Linked DNA regions of Homo sapiens: all the other regions are reported to be linked to region 3. Evidence: microRNA targets listed by miRTarBase, many of them from high-throughput screens and not tested one by one. Region 3 holds a microRNA gene; each other region holds the end of a gene's coding sequence.

Evidence for each region. Region 3 holds the annotated microRNA hsa-miR-186-3p (GCCCAAAGGUGAAUUUUUUGGG, at 3,292-3,313, shown strand). A microRNA usually pairs through its seed, bases 2 to 8, with sites in the 3' UTR of a target mRNA and lowers its output. Matches are read on the target gene's strand: a 7mer-m8 pairs with bases 2 to 8, a 7mer-A1 pairs with bases 2 to 7 and ends in A, and an 8mer does both.
Region 1: the mRNA of DNAAF3 is a reported target of hsa-miR-186-3p. The part of its 3' UTR that is shown has no 7-base or 8-base seed match.
Region 2: miRTarBase lists SEC14L4 as a target of hsa-miR-186-3p. Seed matches in the 3' UTR shown: 7mer-A1 at 1,751-1,757.
Region 4: miRTarBase lists DIS3 as a target of hsa-miR-186-3p. Seed matches in the 3' UTR shown: 7mer-A1 at 5,734-5,740, 7mer-A1 at 5,372-5,378, 7mer-A1 at 4,185-4,191 and 7mer-A1 at 1,432-1,438.

The regions. Positions count from the first base shown.
Region 1 is chr19:55,153,377-55,160,490 of GRCh38, reverse strand. DNAAF3 (dynein axonemal assembly factor 3) reads left to right here. Exons shown (of 12, transcript NM_001256715.2): 10 at 478-592; 11 at 884-958; 12 at 1,042-1,826. The coding sequence ends at 1,429. TNNI3 (troponin I3, cardiac type) reads left to right here and starts at 2,759. Exons shown (of 8, transcript NM_000363.5): 1 at 2,759-2,912; 2 at 3,183-3,195; 3 at 3,358-3,441; 4 at 3,847-3,888; 5 at 4,159-4,290; 6 at 5,661-5,750; 7 at 6,285-6,461. The coding sequence starts at 2,902. DNAAF3-AS1 (DNAAF3 antisense RNA 1) reads right to left here and starts at 1,182. Exons shown (of 4, transcript XR_007067345.1): 1 at 1,046-1,182. RefSeq lists an enhancer at 2,981-3,568.
Region 2 is chr22:30,484,136-30,491,252 of GRCh38, reverse strand. It overlaps SEC14L4 (SEC14 like lipid binding 4), which reads left to right. Exons shown (of 12, transcript NM_174977.4): 12 at 1,007-2,351. The coding sequence ends at 1,146. LOC107985579 (a long non-coding RNA gene) reads right to left here. Exons shown (of 3, transcript XR_001755490.2): 3 at 4,869-5,506. Among named protein-coding and RNA genes, the nearest start is that of SEC14L3, 16 kb to the right of the region's middle.
Region 3 is chr1:71,063,841-71,070,954 of GRCh38, reverse strand. MIR186 (microRNA 186) reads left to right here and starts at 3,239; the gene lies at 3,239-3,324. It overlaps ZRANB2 (zinc finger RANBP2-type containing 2), which reads left to right. Exons shown (of 10, transcript NM_203350.3): 7 at 1-128; 8 at 1,593-1,679; 9 at 4,021-4,179; 10 at 5,818-7,114. The coding sequence ends at 5,881. ZRANB2-AS1 (ZRANB2 antisense RNA 1) reads right to left here. Exons shown (of 3, transcript NR_038420.1): 3 at 3,771-4,189. RefSeq lists a silencer at 2,403-2,452.
Region 4 is chr13:72,753,499-72,760,615 of GRCh38, forward strand. DIS3 (DIS3 exosome endoribonuclease and 3''-5'' exoribonuclease) reads right to left here. Exons shown (of 21, transcript NM_014953.5): 20 at 7,031-7,117; 21 at 1-6,380. The coding sequence ends at 6,297. It overlaps BORA (BORA aurora kinase A activator), which reads left to right. Exons shown (of 12, transcript NM_024808.5): 11 at 192-323; 12 at 1,653-2,698. The coding sequence ends at 1,718. Among named protein-coding and RNA genes, the nearest start is that of DIS3, 25 kb to the right of the region's middle.

The DNA of each region.
Region 1 (7,114 bases), not on the chromosome of region 3:
ATTCTGAGAGCATGCTTAGAATTCTGAATTCCACTAGCAGAATTCTAATCTTATCTGCAGAGGGCTAAGCTATCCAAGAATATTCTCACAGGGTGCTGGGTCCCAGCTCCCCCTTGGACAGCCTCCCACACCCTGGATCCTGGCTGGGCCTCCTTCCAGCCATCCTCCAACCTGGCCCTCCCTGCGTGTCTGTCTGACAGGGCATGTCACATGTGGCCCTGGCCACCCACCCTCTTTCCCTCTCTAGAGTCTCAGTTGCCTGATCTGTACAGTGAGTCTCTGCCTGCCAGGCTGACCTTCCCAGAACTTTCCAGGAGCCTACCTTAGAGGATTTTTTAAAAAGCTGCAAGAGGACAAAAAGTGTTATCTCCAAGTCCTGTGTGCCTGCCCAGCTCTGCCCAGCTCTGTGTATCTCTCTGGTTTTCCGCCCTTATGGCTCCGCCTGTCAGAGGTGACCCCTCTATCCCCTTCCCCCAGCAGCCCCGACCCCGGAATCTTTCACCGTCCACTTCCTGCCGCTCAATTCTGCTCAGACTCTCCACCACAAGAGCTGCTACAACGGCCGATTCCAGCTCCTCTATGTGGCCTGTGGGTAAGCGGGGAGGCAGCTGTGCTCACAAAGACCCAGGATCAGGCCCCCAGCCCCTCCTCCCTCAGACCCAGGAGTCCAGGCCCCCAGCCCCTCCTTGCTTAGACCCAGGGGTCCAGGCCCCCAGCCCCTCCTCCCTCAGACCCAGGAGTCCAGACCTCCTGCTCCCTTCTTTCCCCAGGACCCAGACTCCAGTTTTGCCACCCCTCCTCCCTCATTGTCTGGGATCCCAGAGCCCCATCCTCCCTCCGGATTTGGAGCTGAATCTCAGCCTGTCCTCCGTCCTCTCTGCAGTATGGTCCATCTTCTCATCCCTGAGCTTGGGGCCTGTGTGGCACCCGGAGGGAACTTGATTGTGGAATTAGCCCGGTGAGTCAGTGGGGTGGAGGGTGGGGAACATCCTGGCTGGGGATCAAAATCTGGGTCCCTGACAGGGCGCTTCCCATCTGCAGGTACCTGGTGGACGTGCGGCAGGAGCAGCTGCAGGGATTCAACACCCGGGTCAGGGAGCTAGCTCAGGCAGCTGGATTTGCTCCACAGACCGGGGCCAGGCCTTCAGAGACCTTCGCACGTTTCTGCAAGTCCCAGGAATCAGCTCTGGGCAACACTGTCCCAGCTGTGGAACCCGGAACTCCGCCCCTTGACATCCTGGCCCAGCCTCTTGAAGCCAGCAACCCAGCCCTTGAGGGCCTGACCCAGCCTCTGCAGGGTGGGACCCCACACTGTGAGCCCTGCCAGCTGCCCTCTGAGTCTCCAGGTTCACTCTCAGAGGTTCTGGCTCAGCCTCAGGGGGCCTTGGCTCCGCCCAACTGTGAGTCAGACTCCAAAACTGGAGTCTGACCCAACCCCTAGACACCCCTTATCTCCAACTTCCAAAGTCAGGTTGTAGGATGAGAACCCGCTGATACCATTCTAAGTCCGCTGCTAGAGTCCTCAATTTTATTCTAATCATTCCCACTCAGTACCCGCCACCCCCACCCCGGGAGTGTTGGTAGACTTTCAAATTCCATTTCTGAGATTCTATGGTCTATTCCTAGAATTCTAGATTGTTCTCTCAGAATTCCAAATTCCACTTCTGAGGCTCTAAGCCCAGCCTAGGATCTGACACTGAGTCTCAGGCCCTTGACTTTGGCCCCCTTGTTCCCAGGCACCCTGTGGCTGACTAGGGGCTGGGGTGTCTCCTCACCAGGGCCTGGTCAGCACCCAGATGGTTCAAGTAAAGCAAGTTGTGTCCACCCTTCTGTGTGTCCAAGCGTCTTTCCTGTCCTATGTCCGTCTCCAGGGCTGGGAGAGAAAGGCCCAGGAGTGCTGGACAGAGGAAGCCAGAAACCAGATTCCTGGGTTTCCAAGTGGACGAGGGATGGATTTCCCAGTGCTATTGACTGAGAGCTAGCCCCGAGCACAGCTGCATCCTCAAATTAATCAACAACATTTATTGAGTGGCCTGGACTCCTGGGTCTGAGGGGAGAGGGATTGGGGTCCTGGACTCCTCGGTCTGAGGGGAGAGGGATTGGGGTCCTGGACTCCTGGTCTGAGGGAGGAGGAGCTGAGGGTGCAGACTCTTGAGTCTGAGAGAGGAAGTGTGCTGGGGGCCTGCCTGGACTCCCTTGTCTGAGGGAGGGGCTGGGGGCCTGGACCCCTGGGTCTGAGGGAGGAGGGGCTGGGGGCCTGGACTCCTGGGTCTGAGGGAGGAGGGGCTGGGGCCTGGACTCTTGGGTCTGAGGGAGGAGGGGCTGGGGCCTGGACTCTTGGGTCTGAGGGAAGAGGAGCTGGGGGCCTGGACTCTTGGGTCTGAGGGAGGAGGGGCTGGGGGCCTGGACTCTTGGGTCTGAGGGAAGAGGAGCTGGGGGCCCAGACACTTGAGTCTGAGGGAAAAGGGGGCTGGGGGCCTGGACTCCTTGTGTGAGGGAGTGGCCAGGGTCTCCCAGGGTCCTGGGACTGAGGGAGGAGGAGGTTGGGAGGTCGGGCATTCTCTGGGTCTGAGGGAGGAGGGGTCTAGGACTCCAGGATCAGAGGGAGGAGGGTCCGGATTCCTGTGCCCGGAGGTGGCTGGTGATCCAGCTGGAGCAGGGCCCACCCCGCCCCTCACGCGCCCCCGTTATCTGGCATAGTGGGCAGGGGGAGGAGGAGGTGACAGTATATTTAGTCTGTGTCCTCGCCCTTTATCTCAGTGTCCTCGGGGAGTCTCAAGCAGCCCGGAGGAGACTGACGGTCCCTGGGACCCTGAAGGTCACCCGGGCGGCCCCCTCACTGACCCTCCAAACGCCCCTGTCCTCGCCCTGCCTCCTGCCATTCCCGGCCTGAGTCTCAGCATGGCGGATGGGTGAGTGATGCCCCAAGGCAGTGGGAGTTGGGGGCGACCTCCCGGGTTCCCAAGAGGGGTCGCAGCTGAGAGGCTGGACCCTTGGCCTGCGAGGTAGGCGTAGGGACTCTTGGGTGAAGAGAGGAAGTGGGTTTGCGAGTCAGACTCCTGGAACCCAAGGAAGGGGAAGCGCGGTCCCCCGACCTCTTGTTCAGAGGGGACTCCAGGGGTCCCTTAGGAGACAGGACACAGCCCACCACTAACCCCCCTCCTTGGTTTCTCTCCTTCCAGGAGCAGCGATGCGGTGAGAGCAGCGGGCTAAGGCGTGGCTGGGACCCCCAGGGCCAGGGTGGGCGCTGCAGTGAGGGGTCTGGGGCGGGAGGCTGCAGCCCTAGCAGAGGGTGCGGTACGGTAAGGGCTGGGTGGGGTCTTGGTGGTGATGGGGTCCCCACTCCTCCTAACCCAGGCTAGGGAACCTCGCCCTGCACCAGCCCCAATCAGACGCCGCTCCTCCAACTACCGCGCTTATGCCACGGAGCCGCACGCCAAGGTGGGACGGGGCTTCCTGGGGGCAGAGTACAGGCGCCGGAGGGATCCAAGACCCTGGGAGTGGGGGGAGGAGCCAGGGCTGCGAAGGGGGCGGGGACTACGCGGAGGGGCTTCAGGGGCGGAGTTTTGCAGAGGGTCATGCTCGGATTGGTGACAGCAGCCTGCGGGCGGAACTCCGTTGCCCTCGGACTTGCTTAGGGATAGATGGGAAGTGCCTATCCAAAGGAAGAGACCCAGATTGGTGGATGGGAATGAGGGGCGTGGCCTCCCGTAGACTCAGGGCTCAAGTTGGACGTGGGCCCAAATCTGGACCGGCTGGGTTTGCTGGGGGTGTCTTGAGGTCCCCTCCACCGTCGTCTCCGAATCCCCCTCCATGATCCTTCCTTGCTCCATCTCACCCTGGCAGAAAAAATCTAAGATCTCCGCCTCGAGAAAATTGCAGCTGAAGGTGAGGACGGGCGGGACTGGGAAAGAGCAGGCAGGTGCTCAGGGGGCGGAGCTTGAGAATGGGTGGGGCTTTCGGGGTAGGTGGGCGGAAGTGGGCGGGGTTTGGCCGCTCGGGGCGTGGCTTTAGCGGGGAGTACTGCTCGGGGTGGGACGGGGCCTTGGAACAGTGGAGACCAAACTGGAGGGTTTAGAAGGGCAGAGGCGGTTCCCCACGCCTGGTCTTTATCCTGAAGCCCCGGGTGGGCTGCGCTTCCCTCCCACCCCTCTGCAGACTCTGCTGCTGCAGATTGCAAAGCAAGAGCTGGAGCGAGAGGCGGAGGAGCGGCGCGGAGAGAAGGGGCGCGCTCTGAGCACCCGCTGCCAGCCGCTGGAGTTGGCCGGGCTGGGCTTCGCGGAGCTGCAGGTACCGGCTCCCAAGGATGCGAGGTTTCTAGTCCCGGAATTCAGCAGTACAGCCTCTATCCCCTCTTCTGCTCGGGACCCAGGCGTCCAATATGGCTGTCCTTACCCAATTATATATGGTTCGTGGGACTCCTGGCCCCTAACACCCTTTGTGTGCAGGTCTGTGGAGTCTTGGCTCCAACCTACTCCTTCAGGACCATGTGGCCCTCCTATCCCAGACAGAAGCCCAAGCCCCAGCCCCTCCTCCCTCAGACCCTGGAGTCCAGGCCCCAGCCCCTCCTCCCTCAGACCCAGGAGTCCAGTCCCCAGCCCCTCCTCCCTGAGACCCTGAAGTCCAGGCCCCAGCCCCTCCTCCCTCAGACCCTGGAGTCCAGGCCCCAGCCCCTCCTCCCTCAGACCCTGGAGTCCAGGCCCCAGCCCCTCCTCCCTCAGACCCTGGAGTCCAGGCCCCCAGCCCCTCCTCCCTCAGACCCTGGAGTCCAGGCCCCAGCCCCTCCTCCCTCAGACCCAGGAGTCCAGTCCCCAGCCCCTCCTCCCTCAGACCCTGGAATCGAGGCCCTCAGCCCCTCCTCCCTCAGACCCTGAAGTCCAGGCCCCAGCCCCTCCTCCCTCAGACCCTGAAGTCCAGGCCCCAGCCCCTCCTCCCTCAGACCCTGAAGTCCAGGCCCCAGCCCCTCCTCCCTCAGACCCAGGAGTCCAGTCCCCAGCCCCTCCTCCCTCAGACCCTGGAGTCCAGGCCCCAGCCCCTCCTCCCTCAGACCCTGGAGTCCAGGCCCCAGCCTCTCCTCCCTGAGACCCTGGAGTCCAGGCCCCAGCCTCTCCTCCCTCAGACCCTGGAGTCCAGGCCCCAGCCCCTCCTCCCTCAGACCCTGGAGTCCAGGCCCCAGCTCCTCCTCCCTCAGACCCTGGAGTCCAGGCCCCAGCCCCTCCTCCCTCAGACCCTGGAGTCCAGGCCCCAGCCCCTCCTCCCTCAGACCCAGGAGTCCAGTCCCCAGCCCCTCCTCCCTCAGACCCTGAAGTCCAGGCCCCAGCCCCTCCTCCCTCAGACCCAGGAGTCCAGTCCCCAGCCCCTCCTCCCTCAGACCCAGGAGTCCAGTCCCCAGCCCCTCCTCCCTCAGACCCTGGAATCGAGGCCCTCAGCCCCTCCTCCCTCAGACCCAGGAGTCCAGGCCCCCAGCCCCTTCTCCTCCCTCAAACCCAGGAGTCCAGGCCCCCAACTCCTCCCTCAGACCCAGGAGTCCAGGCCCCCAGCCCCTTCTCCTCCCTCAGACCCAGGAGTCCAGGCCCCGAGCCCCTTCTCCCTCAGACCCAGGAGTCCAGGTCTCCCTGTTTTTGGTTCCCCCAACAACACACACCACGTTCCTCCTCCAGGACTTGTGCCGACAGCTCCACGCCCGTGTGGACAAGGTGGATGAAGAGAGATACGACATAGAGGCAAAAGTCACCAAGAACATCACGGAGGTGGGACGCATGGGCAGCTCGGGTACCTTCGGGGTAGGGTGAGATGGCTGGGACTTGGTCTCTGCCTGACCCCTTGCAGCTGCTTTTGGCTGCACATCCCAGGAGACCCAGGACAACTGTGAGCCTGGCAGGGCTGGGGCAGAAGGATGAGTACAATATAGTCAAGGAAAGCTGTTCTAGGCAGAGGGAACAGCACATGCAAGGCCATGGGTTGGGAAACAGAAAATAAGTTAGTGAACATGCTCAGGGCATCACATGTTGGTAAATTAGCTCAGGCACTGGCCAGGGAATTGTGATTTGCATGTAGCTGGACCAGGTTATGCCAGTGGTTTTGAGAGGTGAGGCTGGAGCATATGAGGAGGGGGATTCAGTTCCAGGATTAGAAGCCTAGACTGGGAGCCTAAGCCGGGAAGAGACTGGTAAGGCCTCGGTACTGGAAGACGAGATAAGGAGAATAAAAAAGGAGTGTAGGATGGAGGAGTTGGGTGTGCGGGAAATGGAAGGAGAAGTACCCACCCCCTCGTGTGCCCCCAGATTGCAGATCTGACTCAGAAGATCTTTGACCTTCGAGGCAAGTTTAAGCGGCCCACCCTGCGGAGAGTGAGGATCTCTGCAGATGCCATGATGCAGGCGCTGCTGGGGGCCCGGGCTAAGGAGTCCCTGGACCTGCGGGCCCACCTCAAGCAGGTGAAGAAGGAGGACACCGAGAAGGTGAGTGTGGGCTAAGGCCAGGAAAGAGGATGCTGAGGGGAAGGGCTGTGGGTGCCAACAACCCTAGGCCTGAGGGCAGATGGTGCTTGGAGTTGGAGGTAGAAGCAGCTAGTAAGGGGTCCTCAGAAATGCAAGAGGAAGACAGGAAGTAGAAGGGGAAGACAGGAAGTGCATTAGGGCTACAGGAAGTCCATGTAAGAGCAAAGAGGTACATGAAGGTCCAGGTGCAGTGGCTTATGCCTGTAATCTTTGAGGTTTAAAAAAAATTTTTTTTTAATTTCCTTTTTTTTTTTTTTTTGCGATGGAGTCTCTGCTGCCCAGGCTGGAGTGCAATGACACCATCTCGGTTGCTGGAGTGCAGTGACACCATCTCGGCTCACTGCAACCTCTGCCTCCCAGGATCAAGTGATTCTCATGCCTCAGCCTCCCGAGTAGCTGGGACTACAGGTGCACACCACCATGTTGTTGTTTTAATTTCTACAAATTTCTTTTTTAAATTAGCCAGTCACGGTGGTGGCATGCAGCTTCTCAGGAGGCTGAGGCAGGAAAATCGCTTGAGCCCATGAGATCGAGGGTGCAGTGAGCTATGACTGCACCACTGCACTCCAGCCTGGGCAATACAGTGAGACCCTATCTTAAAGAAGAAGACAGGA
Region 2 (7,117 bases), not on the chromosome of region 3:
TGCATGAACCACCCCACTCCAGGAGTCCCAAAGAGGTGACTTCCTCCAGGTGCTTATCATTCACCCCCAGGCCTTCCAGGCCAGATGCAGCTCAGTCAGCTTTACCAGAAGTAGCATTGCTCAGGGACACCACTGCCCTTCCACATCTATTGGGAACAGAGCTAGGAGAAGGGGAACCCAAGGTTGATTTCCTATGGAGGAGAAGGGTGTGGCTTATGCTTAAGTCAACACATTACCTTATTTCATTTTGTGGAAAGGGAGCATTAGGAGAGTAGAGACAGACAAGTCTGCACGACTCATCACACCTGAGTTCATGTTGGACCTTGGCATTGAAGGACATGCCTTCTGTGAGACGGAAAGCGGCTTATGTAGCCCAGCCCATTCCTCCTGGGGTAGCAGGGCTCCTCCCTGGGTTGGGACATCTGGATAAAGGAATCCCAGTACCTCCCCTCCCTTGCTCTGTGACCGCTGAAAGATCATATCACCTCTCCAAGCCTCAGTTTTCTCCTCTGTAAAATGAGGATGACATTGCCTTCCACATGGGGCTGCTTTGAGGATTCAGGGGCTATAATGTGTGATGGAATCCATGGTTCATGGAGAGGCCCAAGAGCTACCTGTGCAACCGCAACTAGGCGAGGACGCAGTACGAGCATACTGTGTCCGTGGGCCACAGCTCCTCCCTGCAGGTGGAGCTCGAGATCCCGTTCCCAGGCCGCCTGCTCCCTGGCTGTGTGCTGTTCTATATGCTGATGACCATCATGATTCCTTCATGTAGCGCAAGCCACCATGGAGATGGCAGCGAGCAATGGGCTTAGGGCTGGGCACAGGCTGGCCCTCAGGCCCCACCCACTGTCCTGGACAGCTCATTTCCAAGGGTTCCAGGGATGCAGGACGTTCCAGGGATGCAGCTCATTCCCAAGGGTTCCAGGGATGCACCCATGCAGGGCTGGCTCTTCCTGCAGATGTGCGGGGTTTGTGCTCCCTGATCACCTCTCCATCACTGCAGATGTCCTGCGCTTCGACAACACCTACAGCCGGATGCATGCCAAGAAGCTCAGCTACACTGTGGAGGTGCTGCTTCCCGACAAGGCCTCTGAGGAGACGCTGCAGAGTCTCAAGGCGATGAGACCCTCCCCAACACAGTGAAGACCCCAGCCACCTCTACCTGTGCACTCCAACCCCTTCACACCCACCCCTCTGACCCCTGCCTTCCCAGGCAGGGTGGTGCTGGAGGTGGCTGCAGAGAGCCACTTGTCCCACGTCACCATTTCATCTCATTGTAGGCTCACCTGGCACAGTGGCCAAGCAGGAAGGGGCCACCAGTGCATAGCCCATGCTGAAGATTCAGACAGGAACCTCTTTCCCTGTTCCCAGAGAATGCGGCTGAGAATGAGAACGCTGAAGATGATCCAGTCCACTGAGGATGGGTCCTGCTTGCAGAAGCTGCCCTTTCACCCATCTTGACAAGATCCAGCCACCCAGGACTCACCCATGCCTGGTGTTCCAGCTTCAGGGGGTGTGCGTGGTTCCTAGGTCCTGTGGACATCACAGCTTCAGGCCTGAAGAGCAGAGAAGCCCTGTTCTCTGCATGTAGGAGGTCAGCAGGGGTGGGCAGGCCCAGCTGGAGGCAGCTGGGTGAGGGTCCTGGTTCCAGCAGAGCACTGGGGCCCATCCAAGTTTGTTCTGCCACCACTGGATGGAAAATTGGAAATGGACTGGGCGTGGTGGCTCACGCCTATAATCCCAGCAGTTTGGGAGGCTGAGTTGGGCAGATCACCTGAGATCAGGAGTTCGGGACCAGCCTGGGCAACATGGTGAAACCCTGTCTCTACTAAAAATACAAAAATTAGCCGGGCATGGTGGCGTGCACCTGTAATCCCAGCTACTCAGGAGGCTGAGGCAGGAGAATCGCTTGTACCCAGGAGGCGGAGGTTGTAGTGAGCTGAGATCGTGCCACTGCACTCCAGCCTGGGCAACAGAGCCAGACTCCGTCTCTAAACAAACAAACAAACAAACAAACAAATAAAGAAAGAACATTGGACATGGAGAGGTGGGGCCTGGCATGGGTAACCATCAGAGGAAAAAGCCATGCTCAGCCTTCCAGTTGAGTGGGTAACGACTGAGTCTCCAGGGAATTCCCAGTGACCTCCCCTCCACACCTGCTGTGATCCTGCCAACATTTAGCTTTGGTTCTCTTGGCAGCTGCACCATTCATGGGTGCATATACGTAGAGTCTGAACAGGTGCTCTGCTGCTAGAAACAGCAAACCATCTAGATTAAACTCCTAAAGCCAGTGCCACGAGGCATTCCTGTTCCAACTGGGTGTTTGAGCAGATTGGCAAAAAAAAAAAAAAAAAAAAAAATGGCTGCGCTGGCTCCAAGGAGATGGCCTGGGCTGTCGGGCAAGAGTCACAGGACATCCCCATGTCCAGGGGCTGCCTCTGCATCGGAGATGTGACAGGCATCCCCACTACCCTGTTGCACTGCATGGCCACGCTGTCTGCTGCTTTCCCAGATGCAGTGATATTTGGAGTGCCCAGAGGCACTTGGGCTTCCATGGCAGGCTGTGGCCAACTGGAGCCGGGAGGACCTGTGCTAAATTTCACAAGGCCCACCGGTTGTCATGATGGGGGATTGTAATGCCTCACTTCAGCTTTGACATCCTCTGCCTTGATGTCCTCTGCCTAAAAACCAGGGGTTCCTAGACTTGAACTCTGATTCTTGCCCATGTAACTACAGCCGATTTTCCATCAGCACAGCCTTGTCTGGTTTCCTTGCAGGCAGCAAGGATTGCTCTGCCCCATGCACAAGTGTTTCCTGAGACTCTGATCACAGGGCCGTGATCACAAATACGGGCTGGCTGCGGGGGTGGCAAACAAAAATGGGGTCAGGTGCAGGCACTAGTGACTGAATTGCAGTGAGCAGTGATCGCCTGCAGAGGTGAGAGCAGAATCTCCTACCAATTCAGGAGGGGAGGGGCACACTGGGAGCTCAGCAGGGAGCAGGGGCACATGTCCTCAGCAACCCATTTCCAATTATTTTTTTTCTTTTCTTTTCTGAGATAGAGTCTCTGTTGCCTAGACTGGAGTACAGTGGCGCGATCTCAGCTCACTACAACATTCACCTCCCAGGTTCAAGCGATTCTCCCACCTCAGCCTCCCGAGTAGCTGGGACTACAGACATGCACCACCACACCTGGCTGATTTTTGTATTTTTAGTAGAGATGGGGTTTCACCATGTTGGCCAGGCTGATCTCAAACCCCTGACCTCAAGTGATCTGCCTGGCTCAGCCTCCCAAAGTGCTGGGATTACAGGTATGAGCCACCATGCCTGGCCTCCATGTCTAATTTTTAACACTGTCACTTTTTTACAAAACTGAAAAAAAAAAGTCACCCAGAGAGGGGCAGTGGCTTGCCCAAAGTTTGTTTCTTCATTTATTCACTCATTGATATTAATTTAATTTAATTTAATTTTTTAAAAGTAGAGACAGGCCGGGCGCGGTGGCTCACGCCTGTAATCCCAGCACTTTGGGAGGCCGAGGCGGGCAGATCACGAGATCAGGAGATGGAGACCATCCTGGCTAACACGGTGAAACCCTGTCTCTACTAAAAATACAAAAAATTAGCTGGGCGTGATGGCGGGCACCTGTAGTCCCAGCTACTCGAGGGGCTGAGGCAGGAGAATGACGTGAATCTGGAGGCGGAGCTTGCAGTGAGGCGAGATCACGCCACTGCACTCCAGCCTGGGCGACAGAGCGAGATTCCGTCTCAAAAAAAAAAAGAAAAAAAAGTAGAGACAGGGGTCTTGCTATGTTGCCCAGGCTGGTCTTGAACTTCTAGGCTCAAGCCATCCTCCCTGCCTCAGCTTCCCAAAGTGCTGAGGTCACAGGTGTGAGCCACTGAGCCCGGCCTGATTTTGGGTGTTTATTGAGTATCTGCCCAGCACCAGGCATGGCAGACTCTGGGGACACCGAGGACCCTGGGCTGACCCAACTGTATTAACCGGAGGTTTGCGCTCATGGAGGGAGGGAGGTGGAAGTGACACCAGTGATCAGTTATCAAGTGGGTGCATTGTCACCATGCATGCTTGGTTGGGGGCAGGAGCCAAACTCTGGGGGAGCACCCAGCCAAGAAACCTGACAAGGGGTCACGTATGCTTTGTCCAAGGAGGAGGTGACCCTGAAGGGAGAGCTGTCGGATGTGCGGGATGATGGCAGGCGAGCCTTCCAGACAGGAATGGGGGGTGGGCGGTCAGTGGGGCAGGGGTGTCAGAGGCCAAAGGAAAGCTGGAAGGGCTCTCCCAGCCTGGGGCAACGCTGGTAACAACTCACTGGTATTTCCTATTTCTTCATGGATAACTGTGTACACATTAAATAGTTATTAATAATTAATAAAACCATTTTATAATGCCGGTTACAAAACAGCCGTGTAGTTTGTCAGGAAAGAATGGCAAAATCTTGGCAGGAGGCCACAGATCAAAACTCTTGCTCAAAATGAGGCAATTGGAAATACCCAGGCCTCACCTGTCCAGATAATGGAGGTGGGACCTGCTCTCCCTAGCCCATCTCCTCCCTGGAAGTCCCCACAGTCTTTGGGGAGAAGCAGGTGAGGAGGGCAGCAGGTCAAGGACCCATGGGCGTGTTTTCCTTTTTTTTTTTTTTTTTTTTTGAGATAGGGTCTTACTCTGTTTCTCAGGCTGGAGTGCAGTGGCCCAGTCATAGATCACTGCAGCCTTGAACTCCGGCAAAAACCATCCTTTTGCCTCAGCATCCTGAGTAGCTGGGACCACAGGTGTGCACCACTGCACCTGGCTAATTTTTTTTTTTTGGAAATGGGGTCTCACTATGTTGCCCAGACTGGTCTCGAACTCCTGGCCTGAAGTGGTCCTCCCACCTTGGCCTCCCAAAGTGTTGGAATTACAGGCGTGAGCCACCACCCCAGGCCCCAGGGTTGCGGGTGTTTCAATGGCTGTTGGAGAGGCTCACCTGCCCCAGCCCACCTCACTGCCCAAGGAGCCCAAGCTAGGGAGGACACCACTGTAAGAAAGTCTAGGCAGGTGCTCAGAGTAGGTCTTCACCAGAGCTTCATGGCACAGCACTCCACAGTTTGCACAGCCGCTTCACATTAAGTCCTGAAGCAGACAGAGATTATAGCCCCATTTTACAGGCCAGGAAACCGAAGCTCAGCAGGGGGCAGTGCCTTGGCCAAAGCCTCTGTGTCCAGTGAACCAGTACCCAGGTCAGCTGCCGCTGGTGCCCCCAGCCTGCAGTAGGGGAGACGAGGGTTGATGGCGTGTGGGCCCCTGCAGGGAAGGCCAGTGTGGGGCAGGGGGCCACACAGTGGGACAAAGTGAGGTGCTGGGTTCCTGGGGTGGAGGGAAGGCCCAGGATTGGGAGAAAGCTGCTCAGACGTTTGTGCATCTCGGTGGGAAGTGATGGTGCCAGCTCCATGCCCAAATACCGACTGTGAGCCAGGCCCAAGCTGAGGCAGGAAGCACCATCCGCAGCCTACAGATGAGGAAAGTGAGGCTCAGGGCAGGAAGTGAATTATCACATCACACAACACAAAGCGGGAGAGGTAAGCCGTGAATCTGTGTCCATCTACCAGACCGCACACTTGGTGTGCGGGTAGGGAGGAGGCCCGGCCCAAACTGAGCGATGCTCAGGGGACTTCTGCTTTTAACCACCAGGGGGCAGTGTTGGGCCAGCCGCACCCCTGTCCACCAGGAGCGTGAACTGGGGTGGCCCTTAGCATGGGCTCATTGGAAGGTTACTTTCCAGGCCGGTTGAAGCCAAGTTCACCAGGCCCAGGCTGTTCGTGGGGCCACCTGGAGTGGCGGAAAAAGGCAGCCTGACCTCGTTTTAGATCCTGGGTCTGTCACTTGCAGGCTCCGTTTCTTTTTCTTTTTCTTTTTTTTTTGAGACAGGGTGTCACTCTGTTGCCCAGGCTGGAGTGCAGTGGTACAATCATCACTGTAGCCTCGACCTCCTGGGCTCGGGTGATCCTTCCACCTCACCTCCTGAGTAGCAGGGACTACAGGTGTGCACCACCATGTTTAGCTAATTTTTTATTTTTTGTAGAGATAGGGTTTTGTTATGAAGCCCAGGCTGGTCTTGAACTCCTGGACTCAAGCAATCCTCCCACTTTGGCCTCCCAGAGTGCTGGGGTTACAGGTGTGAGCCACCGTACCCTCTCTGTGCCCATTTCTACCCACTCCTGTCCAGATTCCGCAGGGCAGCCAGAATAAAATCTTTCTGAAATGCAAATCTGATCACATCATTCTCTGCATAAGCCCTTCTCTAGTGCCCCACGTACCCCTGGGTAAAATCAGCCTCAGTGGTAGCTTGCAAGGCCCTCTGCAACCTGGCCACTGCACCCCAGTTCCAGACACATCCCATGACTTAAATTCACCAATTCATCAAGCTCTTTCCTGCCCCTCTGCCTTTGCTCATGCTGTACCTTCAGCCTAGGACTCCCTCTCCAACCTTGTTAAATGCACGCTCAAGGGCACTGGAACCCTGTCTTGAAAGGCCTTCCCTAGGCCACACCGCCACCCAGGCCCTATCAGTTAGGGTCCCTTCCCCACACCCCAGCTGCACTTCCCAGAGGTTCCAAAAAAAAACCAGATACCATTTACTAAGCACCTGCATAAGCTTGTGGCTCTATCTATGCCACTTTGTTTAATCTTCATGGCAGCCTTATAAAATAAACATAGACCAGGTGCGGTGGCTCACACCAGTAATCCCAGCACTTTGGGAGGCCGAGGCGGGCGGATCATGAGGTCAGGAGATCGAGACCATCCTAGCCAACATGGTGAAACCCCGCCACTACTAAAAATACAAAAATTAGCTGGGCATAGTGGCACACACCTGTAATCCCAGCTACTCGGGAGGTTGAGGCAGGAGAATTGCTTGAACCGGGGAGGTGGAGGTTGCAGTGATCCGAGATCGCGCCACTGCACTCCAGCCTGGTGACAGAGTGAGACTCTGTCTTAAAATAAAATAAAATAAAATAATAAAATAAACATAATTATTCCTGTTTTACAGGAGAGGAAAGTAAGGCTCAGAAACAGACATTTGCTCAGTGGTGGCACCAGGGTTGGAACTCAGGATGTCTGA
Region 3 (7,114 bases):
GATGCCAGTGAAGAAGAAGATAGTAATAAAAAGAAATCTAATAGACGAAGTCGCTCAAAGTCTCGATCTTCACATTCACGATCTTCATCACGCTCATCCTCCCCCTCAAGTTCAAGGTCTAGGTCCAGGTAAACGGGTACAGGTCAAGGGTAACACCAGTCAAAATGTCAGTATCTAACTTTTTTATTTATAAATTTTGTTTTTCTTGACGAAATAAACTTTCCTTTTTATTTTAAAAATTTAATTCAAATCAACTTTTAAAATAATTTTTCAGCTTAGTACCATACAGTTGTTGTCCAGTATTTTTAGAAAAGTAAAGTCTTAGCATGAAACTTCCTTAACCTATTTTAGCCTCATGCTTTTGACTAAAATAGACTTAAAAACTGAATTAAATTTTTATATACACTTATATTTAATTAATCTAAAGAGATAGCTTACATATAGAAATTAAGTAAAGGGGAGATCTGTATTTTCATTCAAGATGTTAAAGGCTAGCACAGAAATTTTCTAGGCATTAAATCATTGCTTATTACATAATGTTTTTAATAGTTTGCTTTGATATCAGTATTGTGAATAACGGAGCAAATTCAGCCATATTAGTTCTGTTGACTTCATGCTCATAATTTTGAGAAGTCCAGGCGTAAACTAAAACTCTTTTGGTGTACTTGAATATTGTTTGTTGATGTAAAATATGTAATCTCTGATTTTATAGTTAACAATAAAAATAAAATTTTAGGTGAGTGAAAGCAGTGATTTAAATTTAACAGTGTCCTCTTGAAAAACCTTAATCACAGTTAAGTGATGGCATGGGCAATGAATTTTAATCATATTTAGGAATAAAATACTAGATATTAGTGTATAACAATTAGATATATGTTAATTGAGCACTACAAAGCCTGAAAGCTTAACAAAGTGGGGCTATAACTAGTAATTTTTTGGTAAAAATATAGTGATCTTTTTCTACAGGGTATTATTATAAGGGACAAATTATAGTTGTAAATTAGATTAATGAATTTTGTGAGTTTTAAAATTTGTACGAACCATGTCTCCCTTGTGTCATATTTTCCAATAATATAATTACCTAACAATGACAGAATTATACATTTTCCCTTTAATTCTCTAAGCATTGAGTAAACAGAAAAATATAGGGATGAAATACACACATGCCAACATTCAAAACTTTGTACTAACTAGAAACAAAAATAGAAGGGGATTTATAAAGGAAAATGATGGAGACATTTTAGAGAAATTAAGTATAAATCGCAACATTCTGTTTTCTTGGATGTATTCTGGGTAGCTTCTAGTTACTTGTAAACAAAGTATTCATTGTTTTTGTAATAAAGTGATAATGTTTTGTTTTATAGTTGAGTGGCTTTAGGGTAATTTAATCACCTGGAAAGTGATATTTTTTTAATTACCTTTTGTTACTAAATCTTATCTAATTTAAAATACTATGTTTTGAAAGTATATATCTTGTATAGTTATCTTTTTATATGAAAATGAACTCTAATACATATCTTTCTTTCAGTGTTCATATCACAAAGCTCAATTAAATGGTCCTGGAAAAAAAAAATCGTTCCATGTTGTTCCAGGTCCCGTTCAAGAAGTTCTTCCAGTTCGCAGTCAAGATCTCGTTCCAGTTCCAGAGAACGTTCGAGATCTCGTGGGTCGAAATCAAGGTGAATGAGGTAGCATCTCTCTGTAAAGCAGAGAGAAAAATATTTAAAGGCTGCAGAAGGTGTTGCTGCTTTTTTTCCCCTTATTTTGCTTCTACTTGTCGATTTTATTTTAGCATTAGAAAACTAATGCACTTGCCTCAGCTTAATTTTCTCACCATGAAATGTTTCCATTGCCAGCAGTGTGCCAAGACATTCCCATGATTGAAATCAGGTGGCTATTTTGCAATATGCAGCGTTTATTATTTTGGCACTAAGATGTTATGAAGTAGGAAGATGAAGCCAAGTCTTATCGCCACATCTCTAGTATATTAAGATTATATATGGCCAGGCACAGTGATTCATGCCTATAATCCCAGCACTTTGGGAAGCTGAGGTGGGAGGATCACTTGAGGCCAGGAGTTCAAGGTTGTAGTGAACCTTGATCACAGCACTGTAATCCAGCCTGGGTGACAGAGGAGTGTCTCAAAAAAAAAAAAAATTAATAGTAGTTCAAATAAAATTACATATGTAAATAAAAAGAAAAATTTTCTTCATTATTAAAAGGAAGAAAAATAACCCTGCCTCAAAACAGGTCCTGTTTTGCACGGCAGTTGTTTCAATATTTTCAGAAACAAATTTGCCATTTATATCAGATAAAGTTACTAGAGTACTGTATATACATTTTCCTTTCTAATTTTACACACGCTATTATTTATAGAGCACAAAACACTCAAAACTAAATCAGGAAGTATAGTCGGTTAGTTGAGATAGGATGTGGTCTTAAGTAGTAAACAGTGTTCTAAAGTTTCAGGTTGCATGTAGTCACATCTGTAGAGGGAAACATAATTTGAAAGATGCTCTTGCAGGAAATTTTTCTTTGTTTAGTCAAAATATGCTCTCTTTGTTTTTAAGTTAATTTATTATGACCTAAAGGCATCTAAAAAATAAATAAGAAAATGAAATTCCATATTTGTGGAAATTCATATTGAAGTCTAACTGTGGCTGTTTTGGTAAAAGTATTTGCTGCTTTGAATCAAATTTAGCATTAAAGGGCTGCCACAGTATAATCATGTTAAGGAGAAAAGAATGTTGTGCACACTTGCATTATAAGCCAATAAGAAATAGATAACAAGGCCAGGCTCAGTGGCTCACGCCTGTAATCCCAATACCTTGGGAGGCCAAGGTGGGCGGGCTGCTTGAGCCCAGGAGTTCAAGACCAGCCTGGGCAATATAGTGAGACCTCGTCTACTAAAAATAAAAATTAAAACAACCAGCCAGGCATGGTGGTGTGTTCTTATAGGCTGAGGTGGAAGGATCACTGGAGCCCTGGAGATTAAGGGTGCAGTGAGCCATGCTTATGCTACTGCACCACAGCCTGGGGAACAGAGCAAGATCCTGTCTCAAAAAAAAAAAAAAAAATAGAAGTAGAGAGCAAATTATTTTTTATTGTTACCATTATTTAGTAACAATATTTAAGCGCTTTATAGGTAAAAATCCTTAAGTTCTGGTATTCCCTTTGGGAACCATTATAATTAAGGTTTACAGAACACCCATCATATTCTTCCCAAACATTTTTTCATTGCTTGTAACTTTCCAAAGAATTCTCCTTTTGGGCTTTCTGGTTTTATTTTAAGCCCAAAGGTGAATTTTTTGGGAAGTTTGAGCTAAATTCCTTCAACCAAAATATACAAGTGAAGAAAAAAAATTTGTATTTAAACATTTGCACATTTACTTCTACCTGAAGCATGTGAATGTCAACACTTCATATTTCATAAGTAGTGGGTTTTCATAAAAATAGTATTGTAAATATAAATCATCTTAAAGTTAGTTTTTATTTCTTCTTGAATATTTAGCAGTTAAGTACAGTTACTAGTCTTTTGTTGCTGTGCCATATACCTGGTTTTTCCATAACAGTTTAATGAGTTGAATAATTCCACATGGAATTATGTTTATTTTCCTCAGGAAGTGGTATATAAGATACATATTTTAATCCTCAAATGGAAGGATGTAGTTCCTAAACGTAAAGTCCTGTTAATGCAGTTATCTGCTGATTTTATAATACTATAATATTTGTGTATACTTTGAAAAGCCTTAAAAAAAGTTTAAATTCTATTTTGATATAGTAAGCAGGGTTTTAATTACACATGATAGAATTTTAAAGAGACAAAATTAAAATGTTTAAGTAGAATGTTTTCATGGTTGATCCAGAAGTCTTCTGTTGAATAAGCAGTAAGTATTCTTCCTTATAAAATTTTCATAGTTGTTATAAATCCTGTTTATTTTTGGAGCTATCTGATAACTAAATAATCTTCCTTATTTCTTCTTTTAATGAAATGTTTGATTTGTTTCTCAATCAATGAAGATCCAGCTCCAGGTCCCACAGGGGCTCTTCTTCCCCACGAAAAAGATCTTATTCAAGTTCATCATCTTCTCCTGAGAGGAACAGAAAGAGAAGTCGTTCTAGATCTTCTTCATCTGGTGATCGCAAAAAAAGACGAACAAGATCACGGTCACCCGAAAGGTTTGGGTTTCTGTAGAAATAAGAATGGGTGTTCTTAAGTGTGTTTAATAGATAAAGTAAACTTTCCTAGTCAAGGGTTAGATTTTTATTATCTCTTGTGTTCCGACTTTCTACTTTTCAACTTTGAACTTCAAAAAAACATTACTTTGCTTATCCTTTGTACTTTGATCAGGTTGTTTAGAATTGTAGATCAAACCATTCTTTGATCATTTTATTGTTTAAATTTTTAGTTCCATTTATAATTTTTATAGCCAACTCTCGGTTATTTCTGTCTTTTGAGATTGCAATTCAGAAGCTGTATGTCGAAGTAATTTATGAGTTGACTTTTATACTTAGGCTTCTTTAAATACTAATAGTCAAGAATTCTAGAGCATCTAATAAAAAATTAACTTTCAGATCATTGGGAATCTGTCCTCATTTAAATATGTGTAAATGCATTTCCACAGCAAATTGCTTCATGCCCTTTGTCTATAAGGAAATTATTCCTTGTAGCTAATACATTTTTCATTTTGCAGTCCAAATCTTTTTTGAGAAAGGCCTATATTAGGTTACTTTATCTGTACTGACACTTTTAATATTGGAAGAATGCAACTGTCATCTGTCAGCCTTTTCTGCAACAGGCTAATTACTCAGTTTCATTAATTTTCTCTTTGTTCCCAATTATATAGTCATTTTAATGGCTTTATTTGTAGTCTTTGCAAATTTTTCATATTTTATTAGCTTGTGAAAATAAAGATTATGTAAAGTCTATTAATTGCTGGGTTCAGTGGTAGGATTATCTCATGATTCCTACTTGTACAGAATGATTAGTTTTGCTTCTTCACATTTTGGAGTTTAGATGTTAAGATTTCACACAGTCTTGTTTCTCTGCATTTGTTTCTTTGTAAAAAAAATTACTCTGTTTTTGAGTGGAATTCATTCTGTTGCTTTCTTACCACTTCTGCAAATTTTTATCTTAGCCACATATAATCCCCCTAGTTTGTTGTCATCTAAACTTAATGAACATGTTCTCTATTCCATAAGCCAGGTGATTGGTGAAAACACTAAACAACCCTGAGCCCAGGGCCAACCCCTACGGAACACCACTACTTTACCCAGGTTGATATTGACTTATTCATACTAGCTGCATGAATATAACCCTATAGCAAATTGTACAATCATCTTGTGTGACCTAGATTTCCAAAACTTATTTATGAGTATATTTTCTCATACACAGAAGCCTTGCTGTATCTTTTTTACATAATAGACTTCTTACACTTTCTACACCGTGTCACAGGGATTGGTTTAGTCACACTTCCATTACCAAGTTTATATGCTTTTGTTGTACATTTTCTGTAATTTTACACATTTTTGCAAGGCTTTTCTTTGATATCTTAAATAATTGAGAGGTGGCTATATTTTGAAATGAGATTCTTTTGAAATTGTAGAGAATTTTTTATTGTATTTATATGATAACTGGGCTCATATCCAAAGTCTAAACATCAGATAATTTTATGTGTGTAAGTTCCTATCTCAATTTTTAATTTTTTTGCTAGCATCATGGTACTGAATTTTGTATACTTTCACAGTCTTAAGAATGAATGCTGAGATTTAGCTCTAGCTTACTAGAATGCCTACTCTCTCCATTATGTCTTACAGACGCCACAGGTCATCATCTGGATCATCCCATTCTGGTTCCCGTTCAAGTTCAAAAAAGAAATAATGTATTAAAATTTACATCTTAAAAAAATCCAGTACAGTGCATGAAGCATATTTTTAAAGAAGTTGGTGTCTTACTTGGTCAGAAGTGCTAAATCTGCTAGTAGAGGTGCATGCCTTTCATTGCTTTTCAAAACAATACAGCTGTGTTTATTTGTGAAGTTAAAAGTAAATAGCATTTTAAGCCATAATGTCCCAAAATAGATGTTCTGTCATTCATTATTTACAACCATTTGCTTCATTTAAAACCATTTCAGCTATAACAAAGTACTTTGCTTCCTAATTTAAACCCATTTTTGTCATTTCCAAATACATCCTGTCCATTGGCTAAGACAGGATTACCTAGGCTTGCCTGAACTTTGGGCATGGAAGAAAGACTGGAAACTAGTTGGAAACAACATACTTATGGAAAAGAAAGTCAGCCTTTTTATGCTGTTAACAGATGTCAGAGTGATTCTCACCAAAAAAAGTTAAACTATGTTGTAAGCAGCCAACTGTAAATGTCTATTTTGAAATTCCCTATGCTAAGGGTGCCTTAGAATCATTGTGTCTCTTTTATCCAGCTTTACTTTTTTGCTCCACATTTAATGCAAAAGAATCTTGTGATGTCTACAAGGAGAGAAGTGGGATATATTTTCCTTTCTGACACATAATTTGGGGCAAAAAAGAAAGTCTTAAGAGTTTATCTTTTCTCTGCTGATACGGTTGCTTGATAAAGACATCTCAAAATGTTTACCAATGTTTTAAGAAGCTTTGTGTGATATTCTTCCAAATGTAGTTACCAAATATAATATGGTAGAAAAGGCTAAATCATACTTAATGAGCAAATTGAAGTAAGCTTTTAAAGTATATTTCTCTTTTGGTGAAAGGCCAATGGAGACATTGTGAATTTAAGTGAACATTTGCCTCAAGATGTTAACTATAAACACACTGCATACAATTTTCTTCTGAATAACAAATGAATGCTTATTGCTGCATGATGTAAGCAAAAGTCATTATTTTTCCTATTCATTTGAAATAAGTTATGGCTTAAAATGCTTTTGGAGTTTATTTCTCAAAATTAAAATCTGGTCACATGAGCTTTAGTTTGTTTTCTGGTTTAAAAAATAAAAAGGTTTCTCTTAACAGTATTTCCAGTGACAATGCAAGGTAAGTATATCAAAGGAAATCAACAGTTGTGCTTGGGGGCTTTTTGTTATGGGATATTGATTTCTTGTTTTTTTTCCGTAACATTGTC
Region 4 (7,117 bases), not on the chromosome of region 3:
CTACAATAATCAGTACTATGCAGGACTACCTTTTATATTTGTGCATTACTTTTGAATTTTGTTCAACATGATCAATATTACATGTTAGGATCATTCAGATGTAGTGAATGAGAGTTTATAGTGGTTTACTTATTTAAATATTTGACTTTTAAGTTCCTCACAATATATTTTTTTCTTTTTTCTCCTGTCAGATGGATAGTGGCTATAATACGCAGAATTGTGGAAGCAATATTATGGATACAGTTGGGGCAGAAAGTTACTGCAAAGAAAGTGATGCACAAACATGTGAAGTTGAGAGTAAATCTCAAGCATTTAATATGAAGGTACGGAGAAAATATAGTGAAAGCTTAATATTGTTTAGATTAGAAATATAAAATAATTTTGATTATTAGACAATAGTACTATTGAGAAACTATATGAAATTTAAAACACTAAAAGGTAAGCCTGTTTTCTTAACATCCAATAACCTTTAAATATTTTGGTTACTCTGAATACACAAGTATCTTACATACTACAAAGTGTGCAAAGGTAGCGTGTATTTGATGAGGGCATTTACTGAACCTTCCAGGTGGTGGTTATATATTCATACTTGAAGAAACTCATCATAATTTCAGGCACTAGTCAGGACAGTCTTTAATTTTATGTGCCAATTTTTTTTGCATTTTATTTTTTTGTAGAGACAGGGCCTGCTGTGTTGCCCAGGCTGGTCTCAAACTCCTGGTGTCAAGCAGTCTTTCTGCCTCAGCCTCGCAAAGTGCTGCGCGATTACAGGCATGAGCCAACATGCCCAGCCTTGTATGCCGTTTCTTTTTTTTCTTTTTTTTTTTTTTTGAGACAGGGTCTTACTCTGTCACCCGGGCTGGAGTGCAGTCGTAGAATCAGATCACTACAGCCTTTAACTGCTGGGCTCAAGCAATCCTCCTGCCTCACCCTCCTGAGTAGCTAGAACTACAGGTGTGAACCACCTTGCCCTGCTGTTATATGCCAGTTTCTTATAAAATACTATAAATATCAGCAAATGTGCAACAAATGTTTAATAGGGAGGCCACCTTAGTTTTCCTTTCTGTTGTATGTAGTAGGAGCAAACTGCCTTTCTGTTGTATGTAGTATCAGAGCAGGTCTCTTCTAATATTAACCTGAACAAAATCCATCCTATTTCAGGATGCAGTTGTCTATCTAAACATAAGTAGAGATAAATGAAGGATTTTTTTAAATTTTATTATTTTATTTTTTTTGAGACAAGGTCTCATTCTGTCACCCAGGCTAGAGTGTAGTGGCACGACCACAGCTCACTGTAGCCTTCACCTCCCAGACTCAAGCAGTCTTACCACCTCAGCCTCCTGAGTAGCTAGGGCTACAGGCATGTGCCACCACACCCAGCTTTTTAAAATTTTTGGTAGAGACAGGGTCTCACTATGTTGCCAGGGCTAGTCCCAAACTCCTGGGCTCGTGCGATCCTCCCACCTTGGCCTCTCAAAGTGTTGGGATGCTTTTTGATGCAGAATATTGATTTATAAAATACTGTATCTTTACTGTCCCTTCAGAGTTCAGCTAAAGAAACGTGCTTTTAGGTTTTAAAAACAGTCCCGATAATTGCATCCTCCAGTGGTCCTACTTAAACTGAAAACAAGGTATTGTCTTCTTTTTCACAGCAAGACCACACAACACAGAGGTGTTGGATGAAAACAGCAAGCCCTTTTCAATGCAGCAGTCCATAGAATGCCTCTGTCAGAATCAAAGACTAAGCTTAAGAGTTCCTCGCATATATCGTTGTGCACAGGATCAACATGATGGTGACTGGGAAAAAATTACTTCAAGTAACATGCTTAGCTTTCCCTCCTTAATGTGAAAAATCAAGGGCTTACTGACATAGGAACAACAGAAATGCTCCTGGAACTTCAAGTTGCTGAATTATAAGTTTATTTTTTATCAATAAATATTTTTATACTTACATTGAGTGATGTGTTTAACAACAAATTGTGACAGAGCTGAGTGCTCCTATCTTACAGGGTCAATGAACTACTTATTAAGCCTTACTGGTAGCACTGAATTTAGCAGTTCTGAGAACATGTGAAACTATGTTAAAACTGAAGGCACTATATATTTTTACATAAAAGCTTGAACATACAGATGAATTATAACCTATGTGAAGAAATCTTAGATATAAAACTAACTTTTCAAAGATACAAAAGAAATTAAACAGGTTTCCTGAAATTTTAGTTCTTGGTCTGTTCACCTCTGTGGGGAAAATTCTTAGTTCCAGTGATAACTGTTCTAGTTACTACTTTTAAGTATGTAAATACTAGAAAGGTAGTACTAGTGACATCATCACGTGTATTGTTATCTATGGGGCAAATGTGTGGTGCCCAGAATAAAATATACCTCATGCCTAGGGTAGGGACATCCTTTCCAGCTCAAACGTGGGTAGGGATGTGGGAGAATAAGAATGTGGGAGAACCAAGAGAAAAAGTGGGGCTGGGAGAGTGGAGTTCCCGTAGGGCATAGGCCTGTGAAGTAACACTGGGGCAGATATGTATGTTATATACAACTATTTTTTTAAAAAACTTATATCCATGTTGGGAGTAGATGGGTATATAACAGTTTGGAAATACTATCTTTGGAGAATGTATTTTTGTATTTATAAATCAACTTTTAAAAACTGTCTCATTCAAAAGGGAATAAAGACCTGTGTTATCAATGTGTCATTTTCTTCTTTCCTCCATAACTGTACCTTGAAACCTTACTGCTGACCTGCAGAAAATGTGCCGCGTTATGTACCTGGCTCATCTTCAACACACTAACCATGAACACTAATAGCCATTAGGGGACATGGCTACAGATACTACATTGGAAAGTTGTCTTTAATCACACAGGTGTTAAACTCAATATAAATTTACCTAAAAACAATTGCTATACCTAAAAGGAGTTCTGGGTACTAAGGGTAGAAGCCTCACTGGCTACAGTTTTTTAATAGTACAAAAGTCAAGAAATAACACAATAGTGACTATAACCTGTATTCAAATCCCTACTCTGTCACTACTTGATCTGGGCTGATATGGTATGGCTCTGTGTCCTCACCCAAATCTAACCTTGAATTGTAGCAATCCCCACGTGTCAAGGGTGGGACCAGGTGGAGGTAACTGGATCATGGGGGCGGTTTCCTCCATGCTGTTCCTGTGATAGTGAGCCGGTCTCATGAGATCTGAAGGTTTTATAAGCGTCTGGCATTTCCACTGCTGGCAGTCATTTTCATCCTGCCGCCCTGTGAAAAAGGTGCCTGCTTCTCCTTTTTCTGCCATGATTGTGTAAGTGTCCTGAGGCCTCACCAGCAATGCGGAACTGAGTCCATTAAACCTCTTTCCTTTATAATAATTACCCAGTTTGGGGTATTTCTTCGTAGCAGTGTGAGAACAGACCATAAACCTCCATTTTCTCATCTGTTAAATGGAGATAACAGTCCTGGCTTAACAGGGCTTTTTGAGTTAAGTGATATATTCCACGTAACCTGCTTAGCATAAGAACTGGCACTAGAAACAGAACATTTTAGATTATGGAATAGAACTTAGGGGAAAATAGCAAAGTCTCTGATCATCTTGAACTACTCAATTGGGACTTATCCCTGAATTAAACCTTTCTAGTAGCTGAAGCACAAGAAAATAAACTTGGAAAGAAAAAACCTAAGGCCAGTCATGCACTGCCCTACTTCCCTTTCTTCTCTATTGCAGGTTAACTATGGCCTGTAGGCAGTTTTTCTTCTCTTTTTTTTTTTTTGAGACAGTCTTGTTCTGTCACCCAGGCTGGAGTGCAGTGGCGCGATCTTGGCTCACTGCAACCTCTGCCTCCCAGGTTCAAGCGATTCTCCTGCCTCAGCCTCCTGAGGTGGGATTAAAGGCACTTGCCACCACACCTGGCTAATTTTCTTTTCTTTTTTTTTTTTTTTTTTTGCGATGGAGTCTCACTCTCATCATCCAGGCTGAACTGCAGTGGTGCAATCTCGGCTCACTGCAACTTCCGCCTCCCAGGTTCAAGCGATTCTCCTGCCTCAGCCTCCCAAGTAGCTGGGATTACAGGCATCCGCCGTTACACCCAGCTAAGTTTTTGTATTTTTAGTAGAGACGGCGTTTTACCATGTTGGCCAGGCTGGTCTCAAACTCCTGACATCGAGTGATCCACCCGCCTCGTCCTCCCAAAATGCTAGGATTACAGGCATGAGCCACCGCACCTAGCCGGCAAACTTTTTTAAATGGTTGGCGGGGGTGGGGGAAATCAAATGAGTAATGTTTTGTGACACATCAAAATTATAATGATGTGCTGCATAACTTTTGGTCAACAATGGCCAAATATACGATGATGATCCCGTAAGATTACAATGGAGCTGAAAAATTCCTATTGCCTGGGGACACAGCCATGGTAACATCATAGTGAAATTACTTTATGTAGCCTAAGTATATAGTGTTTATAAAAGTCTACAGTAGTGCACAGTAATATCATGGCCTTCACATTCACTAACCACTTACTGACTCACCCAGAGCCAGCTTCCAGTCCTGCCAACTTGTTCATGGTAAATGTCCTAAATAGGTGTACCATTTTATATCTTATATATATCTATATATATATTTTTACTGTACCTTTTCTATGTTTAGATATGTTTAGATACACAAATACTTAGCACTGTGTTACAACCGCCTACAGTAATCAGTACAGTAATATGCCATACAGGTTTGTAGGTTAGGAGCAATAGGCTATCCCATATAGGATACCATAGGGTATACCATCTAGGTTTGTGTAACTACATCATGATTTTCACACAATGATGAAATTGCCAAGTGACATGTCTCAGAACATATCCCTGTCATTAAGTGACATATGACTATATATGAAACTTAACAAATCAGGCCTTGTTGAAACACAGTCATGTTGATTTGTTTACATATTGTATATGGCTCCTTACACACTATCAACGGCAGAGTTGTGTACTATAGTTGCAATACAGACCATAGCCAACAAAGTCTAAAATGTTCTAGCACTTCACAGAAAAGGTTTTTTGACTCCTACTCTACTGTTTCAGTGTCACTGACCCATTTTACCTGGACCAAAGACTACTCAAGTCTATTTTCCTCCAACTGACACAAGTTTCTGCCTCAGTGTATGGAGGTTTTCCTCAGTAATAGGAAACTGGAAAAATTAGTCAACATTTATTGAGTGCCTAAATGACTACCTATTTAGTATACCTGCTGATTTACTTGGCAGGCTTTTCTCACTATACTGCAAGCTCCTTGAAGGCAGAGATAATTTACTTGAGTGGAACCTGGCACAACGTAAGTGCTTTAGAAATTGAATAAGCCAAGTAAAATGTTTTAAGGCAACCCTATCCCAAAATATTCCTGAAGATATTAATTTAATCATTACTAATCTCTGTGATTAGCAAGGGAAGTAGTCAGTCTGGCACACCAAATTTTATTAATAATACTTATTTTAATCTGTTCCCTTTAGTATGTCTTTATACAGTTCCCCTCGTGTATATACACTGATATAACTACAATTTAAAAGCCACTAATTAATCTGTTTTTTATTTTGTAAGTAACAAGATATAGACATTTGAATGCCAATGTCTTATTCTGGAGAGACACTGGAGCTGAAGTTCAACAATGATCACACTTATTACCTGGCAATAAAAACACAACCATCTTTCCAGTCAGGTCAAAATATCCTACTTTTTGCCTTTCTACCAATTCCCAAACATTCACAGTTTTTCAAGGACCACTAATAAAATACAGGAAGCTTTTAAAGACAGTAAGAGAACACCTAGTGTAAGTTAGGTGAATTAAAGATGGCAAAGGAGATTACATCCTCAACACTGACAGCTTCCAAGACTTAGAAAAGAGATTGTTCCTTGCTTCTAAAATTGTTCTATTTTCCTCTGTAGGAAAATGAAAGTTTTTTCTTACAAATATTAAATAATCAAAGTACTTACGCAAAATTAATCTGCTCCTCAATGAGATGAGCACTCCATTTAAATGATCTTTACAGATCCCTGAAGTTGCTGTCCTGTCACTGTATTTAAGTGATGGATATTCAATTGAATTATTCTGCATAAATAATTCTGTTCAACCCAGAAGTATAGTAGTATGATGGGTCAGATACAGTCAACTGTTCAATAAAAATGCAGATGTCTGAAATTATTAAAATGTACTTAAAAGTAACAAACTGTATCACACACTTAGGCTTAGAAGTGTTCTTTCAAGTTTTTTCTTTTAAAAAAGAAACCAGTCTTTGAAGATTTTTGTTGAATATAGCTATTTTCCAAGCTTCATCTTCTTTTTCTTTGGTCCATTAAGGTCCATGTTTGAAGTATCAGTAGGAATGCTTATTCCTGGTATCTAAAGTAATGCAAATGGGGGGAAATAAGGTGATTTAAAGGATAGAATACATCTCAACCTCATCCTCCCCTTCCCCACTGCCAGCTTCAAATTTAAAAGGATGTAGTGGTAGGGAGGGGAAAGGGGGCTAATTAAAGGTTTTATACACAGAAGGTATTTTACAAAGTAGCAGTGGTTCAAAAATGTAAAAGCTAGACATGGTCTCAACAGGTGAGAAGCATGTCATTTAGGAAGTGTTCTTTTTAACTACAAAACAGCCTTCCCAATGGGGAGCCACTGTGATTGACAGAATCAGAGTTGATTTCAAGTGTGTTGGGGAAGGACAAAAGTTAAGAACCAGTATCTTAGGTGAAACACCTACACTTCATCTTCAAAATGCAGAGTTCAAAACTTCTAGATAGAAAAGACTAGGCAGGAGAATGGAAGACCTTTTTATTTTAGCACCAAAGACCTGAACAGAATCTCAGATGTCTAGAATCCCGTGGCCTAAAGAAATCAGTGAGAAAACAGGATTTGCTATGCAAATATTTGGTTTCTACACTACTTACAGGGTTCCCTCTAACATTAAACAGAAATAACTACGTCCCTTCTTTGACAAAATATGTACTGTTTGTTCCATCACAACAAGGAAATTTTAAGTTTGGCCTTACCTGTGGTTCTACCAGGGACATTCGGATCTTCTGATGTTGAAGATTAGATGAGTCTAACATGATTTTCACTTTAACTTTATCAAATAC